Regions from separate parts of the Homo sapiens genome. Here region 2 is linked to region 1. Evidence: fine-mapped expression QTL. A gene starts in region 1. The other region holds a variant in brackets. All regions are shown on one strand. Distances are from middle to middle.

Region 1 (8,853 bases):
GGTGGGGAAGGGAGCCCGGGGTGGCGGAGGCAGTGACAGGGGAGGACAGAGGGAGACTGAGCCCGAAGGCTGGTGGCCAAAGGACAGGCACAGGAGAGGCAAAAACAGGGCAGATGGGGGAGGACAGAATGGAGCCCCCTCAGCAGATGGGGGAGAGAGGGAGAGAGACAAGTAGGAGGACAAAAGACACCCCTGGAGACCAGAAAGAGCTGCGGAGGGCAGGTTGGGGCCGGGGGTGGTGGGGCCGGGTGGTGTTCCCCAGAGACCCTTCTGCCAGCTTCTTCCCCCTCCCCCATCAGAGTACTTGGGGCCAGAACAGGGAGAGAATGAGGGAGAGAAAACTCACCTCGACAGGTTTCCCACATGACTTCAGGAGTCCCTAAAACCCCCAACCAAGAACAAAACAAAACAGTAAATGACTAACACCTACTCCCCTCCAGCCCCTTCCCTTTCCCAAAAGGCCCCAGCAGCAAGACAAATGGAAGTCAGACTCCAGGGTGGACTGCCCACCAAGCTTCAAGAGAGGAACAGAGCCCAAGGGGCATGTGGATCGACTCAGGGCAGGGGTGAGTTACTAGATCCAGAGAGGGCGAGAGGGTCACACAGCACTTCCCTCCTCTAAAAAGGTATAAGCCATAAGCAAAGACATGGCTGCCAAACTGCCTGGGTTCGATGCCCAGCTCTGCTCCTTCTGAGCTGTGTGACACTGGGCAAGGGATTCAACCTCTCTGGGCCTCATTTTCCTCATGGGGAAAATGGAGCTCACACTAGCGCCTGCTTCGGAGGGTTTTGTGAGGGTTAAGTGAGTGAATACATGTAAAGCCATCACACCAGTGCCCGGCATCTAGTGAGCACTCAGTAAACACGTGAACTATTGCTATTATTTTTAGGGAGGTGCAAAGTGGGAGGCTGGGGGACACGTCCCCCCACCTACCTGGATTTTCCGGCTTCTCTCCTCTTCACTCTCTAACTCCAACAATTCATCAATGTTGATCTCATCGGGCATGTCTGCCTCCTAGGGCCAGGGAGGGAGGGGTGCTTAGGATCCCCTTCCCTCCCTCCCTCGCCTTTGTCCAGGGCTCTGCAGGAGCCCCACCGGCCCCAGGGCCCAGCTGGCGGGTTCTGGAGCATTAATGTGGCAGTCCGGGACAGCACTGCCAAGACGGGACATCTGGGTGTTGGGGGGGAGGGGTGACAGATGGGCTGAGAGAGCCCCGGGGCCCTGTACCAGCCCGATGCCTGGGCCCATGGGCCCCGGGAGCCTCGGGGCTGGCACGGGTCTCTCGCCTTGGCTCTAGTTCCCACAGAGGAAAACAGGCCTAGTGGAGTCCTGGAATGTCAGATTCTGGGATTCGGGAGAGGAGCTGGCTTCTGCCCTTTCAAGGAAAAGTCTTAGCACTAGGTGCAGGGGAGGAGAGGCTGGCAGCCAGCAGCCAGCTGGGGCGGCCCCTTCCCCCAGGGGACAGGAAGGGAGGGGACAGGAAGGGAGGGGACGGCTTGGGCCAGCCCCCAGAGGGCCAAAATGCAGCCTGGTGAGACCGAAGGGAGGACCACCGAGGCCCCTCAAGGTGGGTGGGTGGGATGAGTCATGGCTCAACTCAGCTGCTAAGAGCGGGGCGCTGAGTGTGGCCTCTACAGGCAGTGGCCCAAGCGCAGGCTGGCTCAGTACCCCTGCTGGGAATAGGACCCAGCTGTCCCCAGCTGTCGAGGGAGCAAGAGAGCCTTGGGGTTATGAATCCTTTCCTCCCCAACCCAAAGTCCGGCTGTCGGCTTCAGGCCTGGGGCTTCAGGGCTGGATGGTCCTGGTTCATGTGTGGTGAAGGGGCTTCAGCAAGGACACAGGTGTGTGAGTCTCTGCCAGGGCCACAGCCTGATGCCAAGGGCCTGGGGCTGGCCGAGGATGCAGAGGGACCTGGCATCGTGCAGTGGCTTCGTATAGTGGACTGTGGTCCTGCAGGTGTGAGGTGTGTGGCTCTGGCTTGGGTGTGTGACACATCAGCATGTGTCCACAGTCAGCTGTGGGGCCCACCACCTGAGAATGGCCTCATAGATGCCACCTGCCACTAGCAACCAGATTGGTTCACCTGTATGGGCCCAGGTGTGAGTCTGAGAACAGAGGGACTGCATGTCACCATGGGAGAAGGGCCATGCCTTCCACCATTGTCGCACCATGAAGAGGAGGACTCGTGGGTCCTGTGTACACTGTAGCATACAGAAGTCACAGAAGGCCAGGCGCAGTGGCTCACGCCTGTAATCCTGACATTTTGGGAGGCCGACAAGAGAGAATTGCTTGAGCCTAGGAGTTCAAGATCAGCCTGAGCAACATAGCGAGGCCCCATCTCTTTTTCTTTTTTCTTTTTTTTGAGACAAAGTCTCCTTCTGTCACCTAGGGTGGAGTACAATGGCGCGATCTTGGCTCACTGCAACCTCCGCCTCCCGGGTTCAAGTGATTCTCCTGCCTCAGCCTCCCAAGTAGCTGGGATTACAGCTGCCTGCCACCATGCCCGGCTAATTTTTGTAATTTTAGTAGAGACAGGGTTTCACCATGTTGGCCAGGCTAGTCTCGTACTCCTGACCTCAAGTGATCTGCCCACCTTGGCCTCCCAAAGTTCTGGGATTACAGGCGTGAGCCACTGTGCTCGGCCAATGAGGCCCCACCTCTAAGGAAAAGAAAAAAGAAGTCACTGAAAGTGTGACTTCAAGCAGAAACTCAAGTGATGAAGTACCTGTGTGTGTCAATACATGTAGCTGTGGCTTAGGCTCTTGTGTGCCTGTGAGCAGCGGTGGGTTCTGCAGTTGTATGTCCACCTGTTCCTATAGCTTACAGTTTTTTGTTTGTTTGTTTGTTTTTGAGACGGAGTTTCGCTCTTGTTGCCCAGGCTGGAGGGCAATGGCGGGATCTCGGCTCACCGCAACCTCCTCCTCCCGGGTTCAAGCGATTCTCCTCCCGAGTAGCTGGGATTACAGGCATGTGCCACCACACCCGGCTAATTTTGTATTTTTTAGTAGAGACGGGATTTCTCCATGTTGATCAGGCTGGTCTCAAACTCCTGACCTCAGGTGATCCGCCCGCCTCGGCCTCCCAAAGTGCTGGGATTACAGGCGTGAGCCACCGTGCCCGGTGCTTACACAGTTTTATGTCTGGGTGTAGTTATAAATTCTGTTGGGTTTTGTTTGTTTTTGAGACACGGTCTCGCTCTGTTGCCCAGGCTGGAGTGCAGTGGTGCAATCTTGGCTCACTGTGACCTTGGCCTCTCAGGCTCAAGCAATCCTCCCACCTCAGCCTCCTGAGGAGCTGAGATTACAAGTGCGTGCATGCCACCACGCCCGGCTAAGTTTTAAGATTTTTGGTAGAGACAGGTTTTCCCCATGTTGCCCAGGCTGGTGTTGAACTCCTGACGTCAAGCAATCCTCCTGCCCCGGCCTCACAAAATGCGTGAGCCACTGTGCTGGGCCAATTTCTGTTGTTTTATGTCTTTGAGTGGCTGCGGATCAGCGCTTGTGCTTGAAGGTGGTCAGTTTTTTCTTTAGGAGATAAGGAAGGGCCGTAACTTGAGTCATTTTGTGTTCCAGTGGGGTTGTGCTGTGTCTGCCTACGGCTGTGGCCCATGCCGCTGTGTCTGCGGGTGGCTGTGACTGTAGCATATGTTGAACTGTAGGTGACCCCCCCCCAGCCCCCGCTTGTGTCCTTGTGGGTTTGTGCATGGCTGTTACTTCTGGGCTGTGTCCGTGAGTGGCTATAGCTTCCTTCACTGTGCACATCTGTGTCTGCTTTTGCTTCCTTTGCCGTGGGTCTCTGTGTGGCTGTATCTCCCCTGTCACCATGTCTGTGTTTGGCTTTATGACACCCCCCTTCCCCCACTCTTTCTCCAGACGTGGCGGTTTCAGCTCAACTTAGCCTCCTCCCTCCTCATGCTAAACCCCTGGCCCTCCACAGGCGTTTGGACACATCTCTGGAGACCCAAGTCTTTGTGTGTTGCTCTCGGTGTGTCCACAAGCACAATGCCATAGAGCACGGATGGCCAGGCCAATGAGTGCCCGGCCCTGGGGCGCTCGTCCTCTTGTGCAGACCAGGCTGGCCGTGCACCAGCGAGTGTGCACCGAGACCCCAAGGGCGTGGGGTCTCCGCGCCCGGGCTCTATCTGTCCCCGACCACCCCCGAGCCCTCCCCGGGCTCACCATGCCGCGGTACAGCTCCTCCAGGCGCCCGTCGATCCACTTCTCCACGTCCAGCCGCCGCTGCAGCTCCCGCCGGTCATACTTGACGGTGACGCGCGCGTGCCGCTTCTGCAGCCCCCCGGGACTGCCCCCTGGCCCGCGGGCCCGCGATGGAGACTGCAGCTTGCTCAGCACGCGCTTGCCCAGCCGCTGAGCTGCCATCGCGCTGCTGGACCCAGCCTGGCCCCGCGCTGTGCGCCTTCGCCTCGCGCCCCGGGTGCTTCTTACGGGCCAGGGCGGGGCTAGCCGGGGGCGGGGGCTCGGGCTCGCCGGGAGGTCTGCCCCACCCCGGCCGCCTCAGGCCTCAGTTTCCCCGTCTGCAGTGCGAGAGTAGGCCGCTGCGTCGGCTTGAGGCACGCAGTCGTGCGAAGTTGAGGTATGGGCGGGGACCCAGAGTCCCGGGCGGGTCCCTGCATCGGGGGCTCCCGGGCCGGGATCCTGTGGGGCGGGGGCCTGGGACAGACACTCGGGACCCGGCCTGTCTGCGCCCTCTGGCGGTGGCGGGGTGGGGGGCTGTTGGTGCGGGAGCGCCTGCGCCGCTGTCGCTGTAGAAGGTCGAGCGGTCACTTGTTCCTTCGTTCATTCATTCACTCATCCATCCATTTGTTTGTTCACTCATTCCGTTCAACGAATTTTTTTTTTTTTGAGTCGATGTCTCTCTTTGTCGCCCAGGCTGGAGTACAATGGCGCGATCTCGGCTCACCGCAACGTCCGCCTCCCAGGTTCAAGCGATTCTCCTGCCTCAGCCTCCGAAGTAGCTGGGATTACAGGGATGCACCACAACACCCGGCTAATTTTTGTATTTTTAGTAGAGACGGGATTTCGCCATGTTGGCCAGGCTGGCCTCGAACTCCTGACCTCAAGTGATCTGCCTGCCTCCGCCTCCCAAAGTGCTGGGATTACAGGCGTGAGCCACCGCCACTGGCCCGGTTCAACGAATATCTATTAAGTATCCACTCTATACCAGACACTGCTTTACGCTCCAGGGATAGAGCAGGGAACAAAACAGACAAAACCAGTCCCACGCAGTTGACAGTTGTAGCCGGGATACATGAGAAACACAGTAAGTACGGTATTATACAGTTTATTATCATATAAGTGCTTTGGAGAAATATAAAGCAGAGAAGGAGAAATGGAGTGAGGGTAAGGTTGCAATTTTAGCGAGGGTGGCCAGGGAAGTCCCTTACTTCAAAACAGTCTTCTCACTTCTAATTATAAGCAGCAATAATTATACTCTAAAATTTAAATGTGGCTGGGCGCAGTGGCTCACTCCTGTAATCCCAGAACTTTGGGAGGCCAAGGAGGGTGGATCACGAGGTCAGGAGTTCAAGACCAGCCTGGCCAACATGGTGAAACTCCATCTCTACTAAAAATACAAAAATTAGCTGGGCCTGGTGGCACATGCCTGTAATCCCAGCTACTCGGAAGGCTGAGGCAGGAGAATCGCTTGAACCCGGGAGGTGGAGGTTGCAGTGAGCCAAGATAGCACCATTGCACTCCAGCCTGGGCAACAAGAGCGAGACTCTGTCTCAAAATAAATAAATAAATAAAATAATAATAAATAATTTTTTTAAAAAGGCCAGGCATGGTGGCTCATGCCTGTAATCCCAGCACTTTGAGAGGCCGAGGTGGGCAGATCACGAGGTCTGGAATTCAAGACCAGCCAGGCCAACATGATGAAACCCCATCTTTACTAAAAATACAAAAAAAAAAAAAAAAAAGCCAGGCGTAGTGGTGTGCACCTGTAATTGCAGCTACTGGGGAGGCTGAGGCAGGAAAATTGCTTGAACCCAGGAGGCAGAGATTGCGGTGAGCCAAGATCGCACCACTGCACTCCAGCCTGGGTGACAGAGCAAGACTCCATCTCAAAAAAAAAAAAAAAAATTGTAGAGACAGGGTCTCCCTATGTTGCCTAGGCTGTTCTCCAATTCCTGGGCTCAAGCGATCCTCCCACCTCGGCCTCCCAAGGTGCTGGGATTATAGGCATGAGCCACCTCACTCCACCAGCCAGCCATAATGTAAAACTTTTGAGTTTCAAAGAACATCATCAAGAAAGTGAAGAGACAACCCATGGAATGGGAGGAAAAAAATTGCAGTCATGAAACTCATAAGGTGCTGGGACGAGCCACCACACCTGGCCAAACTATACACTTTAAAAAGGTGAGTTGGGCCAGGCACAGTGACTCACGCCTGTAATCCCAGCACTTTGGGAGGGCAAGGCGGATGGATCATCGGAGGTCAAGAGTTAGAGACCAGCCTGGCCAACATGGTGAAACCCCATCTCCACTAAAAATACAAAAATTAGCTGGGCATGGGGGCACATGCCTATAATCCCAACTACTCAGGAGGCTGAGGCAGGAGAATCGCTTGAACCTGGGAGGGGGATGTTGCAGTGAGCTGAGATCATGCCATTGCACTCCATCCTGGGCAACAAAAGTGAAACTCCATCTCTAAATAAATAAAGGGTGAGTTGTATGGTATGTGAGTTATATCTCAATAAGACTGTGTTTTTTTTTTTTTTTTTTTTTTTTTTTGAGGCAGAATCTCGCTCTGTTGGCCAGGCTGGAGTGCACTGGCATGATCTCAGCTCACTGCAACCTCTGCCTCCCAGGCTCAAGCAATTCTCCTGCCTCAGCCTCCCGAGTAGCTGGGATTACAGGGGTGTGCCACCACGCCTGGCTAATTTTTGTATTTTTAGTAGAAACGGGGTTTCACCATGTTGGCCAGGCTGGTCTTGAACTCCTGACCTCAGGTAATCCACCTGCCTAGGCCTCCCAAAGTGCTGGGATTACAGGCGTGAGCCACCGTGCCCGGCTTCAATAAAGCTGTTTTATTTCAAAATTAAAAACAGGCCAGGCGCCATGGTTCACGTCTGTAATCCCAGCACTTTGGGAGGCTGAGGTGAGTGGATTATCTGAGGTCAGGAGTTTGAGACCAGCCTGACCAACATGGTGAACCCGTCTCTACTAAAAATGCAAAAAAAATTAGCCAAGCATGGTGGTGCACCCCTGTAATCCCAGCTACTCAGGAGGCTGAGGTGGGAGAATTGCTTGAACCTGGGAGGCGGAGGCTGCAGTGAGCTGAGATCGTGCCATCACACTCCAGCCTGGGCGACAGAGAAAGACCCCATCTCTAAAAAAACAAAAATAAAAAACAACTATCCATAGCTACCCATGACCTTCAGTCTAAAGGCCAAACTCTGGTTTAGCAGTCCCATCTCTGCCAGGGACAGTCCCATTTCAGCACCAGCACCTTTCACTCGCAGTTCCCTCTGCCAGGAAGGTTCTTCCCTAGAATATCATCAGGGCTCACTCCTTCACCTCCCTCCAATGTCACTGTTCAGTGAGGTCTTCCCTGGCCACGCTATTTCACACTGCAACTCTCGTGCCCCTCATCCAGCTCTGTTTGATACATAACACTTACCACTTTCTAACATTATATATATATATATATATATATATATTTTTTTTTTTTTTTTTTTTTTTTTTTTTTTTTTTTTGAGTTGGAGTCACCTCAGGCTGGAGTATAGTATTGTGATCATGGCTCACTGCAACCTCTGCCTCCTGGGTTCAAGAGATTCTCCTGCTTCAGCCTCCTGAGTAGCTGGGACTACAGTTATACACCACTGTGTCCGCTTACTTTTTATATTTTCAGTAGAGATGGGGTTTCACCATGTTGGTCAGGCTGGTCTCGAACTCCTGACCTCAGACGATCTGCCCGTCTTGACCTCCCAAAGTGCTGGAATTACAGGCATGAGCCACCATGCCTGGCCTCTAACATTATATATAATGTACTCATTTAATGTATTGTCCATGCCAGGCGTGGTGGCTCACACCTGTAATCTCAGCACTATAGGATGCTGAGGCAGGAGGAGCAATTACATCCAGGAGTTCAAGATCAGCTTGGGCAACATAGTGAGACCCTGTCGCTACAAAAAAAAAAAAAAAAAAAAAAAGCCAGGTGCAATAGTACATGCTTGTAGTCCCAGTTACTCTGGAGGCTGAGTTGGGAGGATCACTTGAGTCCAGGAGATGGAGGACGCAGTGAACTGTGATTGCACCACTGCACTCCAGCCTGGGTGATGGAGTGAGACCCTGTCTCAAAAAGAAAAATGTCATATTTTCTGTTCTGTGCAGTGACAGAAAAAAAAAATTATTGTCTGTTTCCCAACTAGTAGCATACTAAAGGCAGGGGGACAGGACTGGTCCACTTTGGGTACAGGCAAAAAGAGGGTGCACTGTCTGTAGAGAATTTAAAAATAAAAAGCTGACCAAGGCCGGGCATGGTGGCTCATGCCTGTAATCCCAGCACTTTGGGAGGCCAAGGCAGGCAGATCACCTGAGGTCAGGAGTTCAAGACCTGCCTGGCCAACATGGTGAAACCCCATCTCCATAAAAATACAAAAATTAGCCGGGTGTGGTGGTACAAGCCTGTAATCCCAGCTACTTGGGAGACTGAGGCAGGAGAATCGCTTGAACCCGGGAGGTGGAGGTTGCGATGAGCCAAGATCGTGCCATTGCACTGCAGCCTAGGCGACAGACAGAGTGAGACTCCATTTCAAAAAAACTGACCAAAAGTTGGTCTAATTTTTATTTTACTTTGCAGTGACATTTCTAAACAGTGTCAATGATAAAA
Region 2 (8,853 bases), 110 kb after region 1:
AAAGCAGGGTTTGGGGATGGGCTGGGGTGTGTATCTTCTGCTCTGGGTTGGGGGCTGGCTTTGAGGCTAGGAGGTGGTCTGGGGATGCCGCTTGCCTGGAGGCTCTCGCCCCGCTGCCCAATCCCTTCACGGTGCCGGGCGATCCCTGCAGCCGTACGCGGACCCGGTGCACGACCCCACCTGGCGCTGGTGGGCGAACAACAAACAAGACCAGGTAGGCGGAGCGGATTGGGAGCCGGGAAAGGGGCGGCGCCCGGACACCCCTCACCGTGCCCCACCCCCGGCGCTGACTCTGCCCCGCGCATCCGGTACCCCAGGATTACTACTTCTTCTTGGCGAGCAATTGGCGAAGCGCGGGCGGCGTGTCCATAGAAATGGACAGCTACGAAAAGATCTACAACCTCGAGTCCGCGTACGAGCTGCCGGAGCGCATTTTCCTGGACAAGGGCACTGAGTACAGCTTCGCCATCTTCCTGTCGGCGCAGGGCCACTCGTTCCGGACGCAGTCAGAACTCGGTCTGCGCGGGACCAGAGTGGAGCCCGAAGGGCGGGGCGAGGGCTACCAGAATCTGGGAGCCTGGGGGGCGGGGACACCATCGGAGGGGCGGGGCCTGTCTGTGAGGGAGGCCTTAACCCCGTTTACTGCCCGGAGCAGGCACCGCCTTCCAGCTGCATAGCCAGGTGGACGTGGGCGTGGTGCTGGCCGACCCCGGCTGCATCGAGGCCTCGGTGAAGCAGGAGGTCCTGATTAATCGCAACTCGGTGCTATTTTCGGTGAGGCCCCCCGGGGAGTTGGGATCAAGGGAGGTTTTGTTTTTTTTTTTTTTTTTTTTTTTTGGAGACAGGGTCTTGCTCTGTCGCTCAGGCTGGAGTGCCAGTGGAGCGATCACTGCATTCTTGGCCTCCTGGGCTCAAGCGATCCTCCTCCCTCAACCTCCTGAGTAGCTGGGACTGCAGGCACGCACCACAGTGCCCAGTGAACTTTTTGTTTTTCTTTTGAGACGGAGTCTTGCTCAGTCGCCCAGGCTGGAGTGCAATGGCACGATCTCGGCTCACTGTAACCTCTGCCTCCCAGATTCAACCGAGTCTCCTGCCTCAGCCTCCCTAGTAGCTGAGATTACAGGTGCATGCCACTACACCCAGCTAATTTTTTGTATTATTAGTAGCGATGGGGTTTTACCATGTTGGCCAGGCTAGTCTTGAACTCCTGACCTCAAATAATCTGCCCACTTTGGCCTCCCAAAGTGCTGGGATTACAAGCGTGAGCCACTGCACCCAGCCTTAACTTTTTATTTTTTGTAGAGACGGGGGTCTCCCTATGTTGCCCAGGCTGGCCTCGAATTCCTGGACTCAAGAGATCCTCATGCCTCGGCGTGAGGTGTGAGGTGTGAGGCATGAACCACCCTGTGCTTGGCCCCGTTAGCCTATTCCTTTTTTTTTTTTTTTTTTTTATTGATCATTCTTGGGTGTTTCTAGGACAATAGTGGAGGGAAGGTCAGCAGATAAACAAGTGAACAAAGGTCTCTGGTTTTCCTAGGCAGAGGACCCTGGGGCCTTCCGCAGTGTTTGTGTCCCTGGGTACTTGAGATTAGGGAGTGGTGATGACTCTTAACGAGCATGCTGCCTTCAAGCATCTGTTTAACAAAGCACATCTTGCACCGCCCTTAATCCATTTAACCCTGAGTGGACACAGCACATGTTTCAGAGAGCACAGGGTTGGGGGTAAGGTCACAGATCAACAGGATCCCAAGGCAGAAGAATTTTTCCCAGTACAAAACAAAATGAAAAGTCTCCCATGTCTACTTCTTTCTACACAGACACGGCAACCATCCGATTTCTCAATCTTTTCCCCACCCTTCCCCGCTTTCCACTCCACAAAACCGCCATTGTCATCATGGCCCGTTCTCAATGAGCTGTTGGGCATACCTCCCAGACGGGGTGGTGGCCGGGCAGAGGGGCTCCCCACTTCCCAGCAGGGGCGGCCGGGCAGAGGTGCCCCTCACCTCCCGGACGGGGCAGCTGGCCGGGCGGGGGGCTGACCCCCCCACCTCCCTCCCGGACGGGGCGGCTGGCCTGGCGGGGGCTGACCCCCACCTCCCTCCAGGACGGGGTGGCTGCCGGGCGGAGACGCTCCTCACTTCCCAGACAGGGTGGCTGCCGGGCGGAGGGGCTCCTCATTTCTCAGACGGGGCGGTTGCCAGGCGGAGGGTCTCCTCACTTCTCAGACAGGGCGGCTGGGCAGAGACGCTCCTCACCTCCCAGATGGGGTCGCGACCGGACAGAGGCGCTCCTCACATCCCAGACGGGGCAGCGGGGCAGAGGCACTCCCCACATCTCAGACGATGGGCGGCCGGGCAGAGACGCTCCTCACTTTCCAGAGTGGGCAGCCAGGCAGAGGGGCTCCTCACGTCCCAGACGATGGGCAGCCAGGCAGAGACACTCCTCACTTCCCAGACGGGGTGGCGGCCGGGCAGAGGCTGCACTCTTGGCACTTTGGGAGGCCAAGGCAGGCGGCTGGGAGGCGGAGGTTGTAGCAAGCCGAGATCACGCCACTGCACTCCAGCCTGGACACCATTGAGCACTGAGTGAACCAGACTCCGTCTGCAATCCCGGCACCTCGGGAGGCCGAGGCTGGCGGATCACTCGCGGTTAGGAGCTGGAGACCAGCCCGGCCAACACCCCGTTAGCCTATTCCTGAGTAGAAAATGGCAGCCTTCCGTTTTCCTACCAGCCACCACCTCGCCCCAGCTATGGGTTATTTGAACTGTTTGTTGGACTTTGGGGAGACCTGTTCACCCCTTCATTTCTGCCTCTCCCCTCCTTCAACCCCAGATTACGCTCAAGGATAAAAAGCTTTGCTATGACCAAGGCATTAGTGGACATCACCTTATGGAGACTTCCATGACGGTCAATGTGAGGTCCAAGCCTGGAGGGGAGGGTGCAGGATGGTGGGAAAGCCTGGGCCGGCGGGGATCACCATCTTCACCTGCTCCTACCCACAGGTGGTGGGTTCATCCGGGCTCTGCTTCCAGGAAACACACCTGGGGCCCCATATGCAAGTATTGGAGCTTGGGATACTGGGCCCTGGGAGGGGAAGGTTGGGGTCGGGTCTCAACAGGGCTAATCCCCCTGAGAATCCCACTAATGCATTCATAATTTCCTTTCTTCTCATTCTTTCTCAACATTCATCCACCCACCCACTACCACCCACTAACTCCTTTCATTCTTTTTTCTTTAAGACGGAGTTTCACTCTTGTTGCCCAGGCTGGAGTGCGGCGGCGCGGTCTTGGCTCACTTTGCCTCCTTGGCTCAAGTGATTCTCCTGCCTCAGCCTCCCAAGTAGCTGGGATTATAGGCGCCCGCCACCACGGCTGGCTAATTTTTTGTATTTTTAGTGGAGACAGAGTTTTTCCATGTTGGCCAGGATGGTCACAAACTCCTAAACTCAAATGATCCACCCGCCTCAGCCTCCCAAAGTGCTGGGATTCCAGGTGTGAGCCACCATGCCCGGCCTAACTCCTTTCATTCATTCACGTTTTCAGAAAGGGCCACCTTCCCAGTTGTGCAGGTTGCACACAAACTGGTATGTTCCCTCTGATAACTTTTCTTCAGAGGGAGAATAGAGTGAGCAACAGGGCCGTTTTTTTTTTGTTTTTTGTTTTTTTTTTAACGATGTCTCACTCTTGTCCCCCAGGCTGGAGTGCAATGGTGCAATCTCGGCTCACTGCAACCTCCACCTCCCGGGTTCAAGCGATTCTCCTGCCTCAGCCTCCCAAGTAGCTGGGATTACAGTTGCATACCACCATGCCTAGCTAATTTTTTATATTTTAAATAGAGACGGAGTTTCACCATGTTGGCCAGGCTGGTCTTGAACTCCTAACCTCAGGTGATCTGCCGGCCTTGGCCTCCCAAAGTGCTGGGATTACAGGTGTGAGCCACCGTGCCCGACCTAGGGCCACTTTTTGCAATTGGCACAAAGGTGGCATAAGGGCTGGCCTGGCCCTGCTTTCACATCTCTCTCTTCTTCTGCCCACTCACACATTCCTCATTCAGTTCTTTGGGTGCTTGGTGCTTCACTTGCTTATACACGTGATATCGCCTTTGCCCGGGGCAGACACTGAGGCTCAGAGAGGTGCAGAGTAACCCAGGGAGCTAATAAGTGGTAGAGGAGGGGCGTGCCCCAGAGTTCTTGTTCTCACCCATTTCCCTACCCACTCCCTGGCATGCAGATCCTGGTGTTCCTCCCTCCTGGCTTAGAATGACCTTGGGCAGTCAAAAGGGGTTGTAACAGCCCCCACCTCCTTAGAGTACATGAGATTTCATGTGCTAGACTGAATAAACAAGGAGGAAGTGTGATTGCATCAGGGTGGGCAAGGGGGAACGTGGTGGGATGAGCTCGGAGCAGTGATGGGGCAGAGTAAGCGGAGCCCTTATGGGCCATGGTATGTGAGCTGGCTCCTCGGGAGGGCTCTAAGCAGAGGAGGGACTCGGGTGTCCCCAGGGCCCATCTGGCTGCATGGGGTGGGGGGACATCAATGAGGGGACTGGAAGCAGGGAGACTCTGGAAGAGACAAGGTTGGACAAAACAGGGTGGGGGCAAAGGAGTTGGAGGTTTAGGGGAGAGAACAGGCAGGCTCTCGGTCTTTTTTTTTTTTTTTTTGAGACAGAGTCCTGCTCTGTCACCCAGGCTGGAGTGCAGTGGTGCAGTCTTGGCCTCTACCTCCCTGGTTCAAGCGATTCTCCAGCCTCTGCCTCCCGAGTAGCTGGGATTACAGGCATGCACCA[CCA/C]CACACCCAGCTAATTTTTTGTATTTTTAGTAGAGACAGGGTTTTACTGTGCTGGCCAGGCTAGTCTCGAACTCCTGGACTCAAGTGATCAGCCCGCCTCGGCCTCCCGAAGTTCTGGGATTACAGGCATGAGCCACTGCACCAGGCCGTGTTAATGATATTAATGACCATATTGCCCTTGGGGGTGAGGGAGAGCCAGGCAGCTGGTGGTGGTGTTTGTGGGAGGGGGACTGTCCTTCCTGCCCCTTACCCCTCCAGGGGCCTGAGGAGACCCTGGCCACCCCTGTGAGCCTTTTTTCCTCCCACCGAGGGCAACCTGATGGTGCCAGTGTTCATTGGCTGCCCCCCAGGCAAGCGCCTGGCCTTCGACATCACCTACACGCTGGAATACAGCCGCCTGAAGAACAAACACTACTTTGACTGCGTTAACGTGAACCCGGAGATGCCCTGCTTTCTCTTCCGGGACAGTGTGTGTCCAGTCCCTTCCCCTGCACAGTTCACTGCCCTCTTGCCCCCACTACTTTGTGCTCTCCCTCCCCATTCCTCTCCCCGCAGACTACCCACCCTTTTTCCTGCGGCATCTCACTTTCCCCCGTCTCGGTCCTCAGCTTCTCGGGCCAAGCTAATTTCTTCTTCTGGTCTCAATCCCCTCCAACCCCATAGTTTTCTACCCCTTCTTCTTGATTCAAGATTTGGTGACAGGAGACTCCGGCAGTTTCCAGGGCAGGTAAAGGCGTGGCCAGCTTGCAGCTAGGGCAGGTGGAGGGAGTGGAAGGAGATGGGTGCAGGACTCGAGACCCGGAGGCCAGTCTGTGTGCACTTCTGTCCCTGGTAGCTATGTTCTGCTGGTGGTGGGTGGCGGGCCCACACTGGACAGCCTCAAGGACTACAGTGAGGACGAAATCTACCGCTTCAACAGCCCCCTGGACAAGTAATCCCCGTGGGGTCCCACGTGTAATCCACCTTGCTTCCCCTGGAGGCCTTTCCCACTTCCAAGCCAAGCCCACCTCGCAAGCCCCCACCTCTGCGTCTCAGGCCCTGCCCACAGTGGGGCTCTTAGGATCTCACAGGCAAACTCCTGCCCGCCCCTAACACCATGTCCCCTGCACCCACCTGTGGCCTCCCTCCACACTGACCACTGAGGTCATACCTCCCCTACACCGCCCCCCAACCCCTGGCTGAGATGACCTGGGCCTGCACAGGACCAACAGCCTTATCTGGACCACGAGGACCACAAGGACCACCAAAGACTCAGCCTTTCACATCATGTCCCACGAGAGCCCAGGCATCGAGTGAGTGCGTAGCCTGGCCCCTCTTGGCCCCCATCTGTCGGTAGTCCATTGGGCCCACCTATCCTTTCTGCCCCTAGGAGGCCTCTTGATCCCCAAGTCACACTGACTGCCTTTGTGTTACTTAAATGGGGCTGAACTTTGCACAAGCTGAAGTCTCTGCCTGGAATGCTGCTCCCTCCGACTCTTTTCAGGCCTTAGGCAGATGCCCCTTCAGCCAGGAGGACTTTTCTGTTTCAAGATGGGACAATTGTCCCTTCATGGCTCCTATGGCCTCTTGGGGCTCTCCCATCCTGGCCCTGAGCCCCCTACCTGTGCGTCCCCATCCCAGAGTGGACAGCTCTGGGCAGTCACTGTCTGGTGTGGGGTCTGTCTCTCCTCCAGAACTGGGTCCTGAATAGACTCATAAATTTGTTTTTATTTTTGAGATGGAGTTTTGCTCTTTGTTGCCCAGGCTGGAATGCAGTGGCAAGATCTCAGCTCACTGCAACCTCCACCTTCCAGGTTCAAGCGATTCTCCTGTCTCAGCCTCCTGTTTATTTTTTGAGACAGGCTCCCTCTGTGGCCCACCAGGCTGGAGTGCAGTGGCACAATCTCAGCTCACTGCAGCCTCTGCCTCCTGGGTTCAAGCAATTCTCCTGCCTCAGCCTCCCAAGTAGCTGGGATTACAGGCACCCGCCACCATGCCTGGCTAATTTTTGTATTTTTAGTAGGGATGGGGTTTCACCACGTTGGTCAGGCTGATCTTGAACTCCTGACCTCAGGTGATCCGCCTGCCTCAGCCTCCCAAAGTACTGGGATTACAGGCACATGCCACCATGCCCGGTTAATTTTTGTATTTTTTTTTCTAGTAGAGACGGGGTTTCACCATGTTGGCCAGGCTGGTTAACATAGCATGTATTGAATGAAAGAATGAACAAATGAATAAATCAATTCGTGGCAGGCATTTATTGATATCTGAATGGGGGTATTAATGAATGAATAAAACAATGGAGAAACAAATTCATATATAGGGGCTCAGTAAGTTTCATTCAATGAAAGGAAAAAAATGAAGCCATGAGCAAATGAAGGCAGTGAATGAACGAACAACTTGCACCTAGTCAGAATTTAACCTGCTTTATTTTTTATTTTTATTTATTTTTTTGAGACAGAGTCTTGCTCCGTCACCCAGGCTGGAGTGCAGTAGTACAATCTCAGCTCACTGCAACCTCTGCCTCTTGGGTTCAAGTAATTCTCCCAACTCAGCCTCCTGTGTAGCTGGGATTACAGGTGCATGCCACCATGCCCCGCTAATTTTTGTATTTTTTGTAGAGACGGGGTTTCACCATATTGGTCAGTCTGGTCTTGAACTCCTGACCTCAAGTGATCCACCTGCCTCGGCCTCCCAAAGTGCTGGTATTATAGGTGTGAACCACTATGCCTGGCCTAACCTGCATTTATTGGATAATGAATAAAGAAGGGAATAAATGAAAGATGTGACTTTGTACCTAGTAAGTGCTCAAGCTATATTTATGGGATAAAGGAATGCAAGCAGCAAAGAATGAATAAGGATTTGGCATATGATAGATACACAGCCTGTAATCTGGATGGATGCACAGTGACAGAGGAATTGACAGATGGAGGTGTGAAGGCAGGAGGAAATGAATGAGTAGACAACCTGTGGCACAGTAGGCGTTCAGTCAGCATGAATGAATGAGTGAATGAAGGAATGAATGAGGGAAGGCATGAGATTGCACCCATTTGGTCCTCACCGAAAACATTGGGTGGAGGAAGAAATTGGGAGTTGGCACAGACTAGGCATGGTTGGTAGCACAACTGCCTGATCTTTGGCTTGCAGGTGGCTCTGTCTGGAGAATGCCCCATGCTATGACAATGTTCCCCAAGGCATCTTTGCCCCTGAATTCTTCTTCAAGGTGTTGGTGAGCAATAGGTGAGCCAGGCAAGTGGCCCAGGTGCGGGTCAGGGGCTGCCCATGGAATGCCTGGCTTCTCCTCTAATCCTGGATCCCCTCCCAACCCCTGCAGAGGAGTGGACACGAGCACCTACTGCAACTACCAGCTCACCTTCCTGCTGCACATCCACGGGCTGCCACTCAGTCCCAAGCGGGCCCTTTTCATCATCATGGTGAGTGGCTGTCCGGGAGCTGCCCTACTGGGTGGGCAGGGGCCCACGCCTCCATACCTATGCTTGTTATACCTTCGCTCATTCATTCCTTTATTCACTCATCTAGCCATGCTGACTGAACGCCTGCCATGCCACAGGCTGTCTACTCATTCATTTCCTCCTGCTGTCATGCCTCCATCTGTCAATTTCCCTGTCACTGTGGATGCAGATTGTGGACTGTGTACCTTATCATGTGCCAACTCCTTACTCATTCTTTGCTCCCTGCAGGTGTCAGCTAGCGTGTTTGTGGGCCTGGTGATCTTCTACATCGCCTTCTGCCTCCTGTGGCCCCTCGTGGTGAAGGGCTGCACGATGATCCGGTGGAAGATAAACAACCTCATTGCCTCAGAATCCTACTACACCTACGCCTCCATTTCCGGAATCTCGAGCATGCCGTCTCTGAGACATTCCAGGATGGGCTCCATGTTCAGCTCCAGGATGACAGAGGACAGGGCTGAACCCAAGGAAGCCGTGGAGAGACAGTTGATGACCTGAGTGTCCCACCTGCCCCAGCCCCCAGTTACTGTCACGCCTCTCTTATGAGGCCCATCTTGAAGATGCAACCTGTCACCCAGCCCAGGCCTCTCTTTCTGTTTTGCTTGATGTTTACTTCT

Evidence for each region. PIP is the estimated chance that this variant, and not a neighbour inherited with it, causes the effect.
Region 2: its variant is fine-mapped to the expression of PPP1R14A in whole blood (TOPMed, PIP 0.97).

The regions. Positions count from the first base shown.
Region 1 is chr19:38,251,960-38,260,812 of GRCh38, forward strand. PPP1R14A (protein phosphatase 1 regulatory inhibitor subunit 14A) reads right to left here and starts at 4,415. Exons shown (of 4, transcript NM_033256.3): 1 at 4,180-4,415; 2 at 935-1,015; 3 at 347-379. The coding sequence starts at 4,380. RefSeq lists a silencer at 4,207-4,394.
Region 2 is chr19:38,362,059-38,370,911 of GRCh38, forward strand. It overlaps CATSPERG (catsper channel auxiliary subunit gamma), which reads left to right. Exons shown (of 29, transcript NM_021185.5): 18 at 152-214; 19 at 318-516; 20 at 656-774; 21 at 2,833-2,913; 22 at 3,003-3,059; 23 at 5,098-5,254; 24 at 5,451-5,514; 25 at 5,623-5,718; 26 at 5,990-6,079; 27 at 7,914-8,006; 28 at 8,101-8,200; 29 at 8,468-8,853. The coding sequence ends at 8,734. Among named protein-coding and RNA genes, the nearest start is that of PSMD8, 8.1 kb to the right of the region's middle. RefSeq lists an enhancer at 1-868 and a silencer at 601-680. The variant CCA/C (reference allele first, on the strand shown) is at 4,786.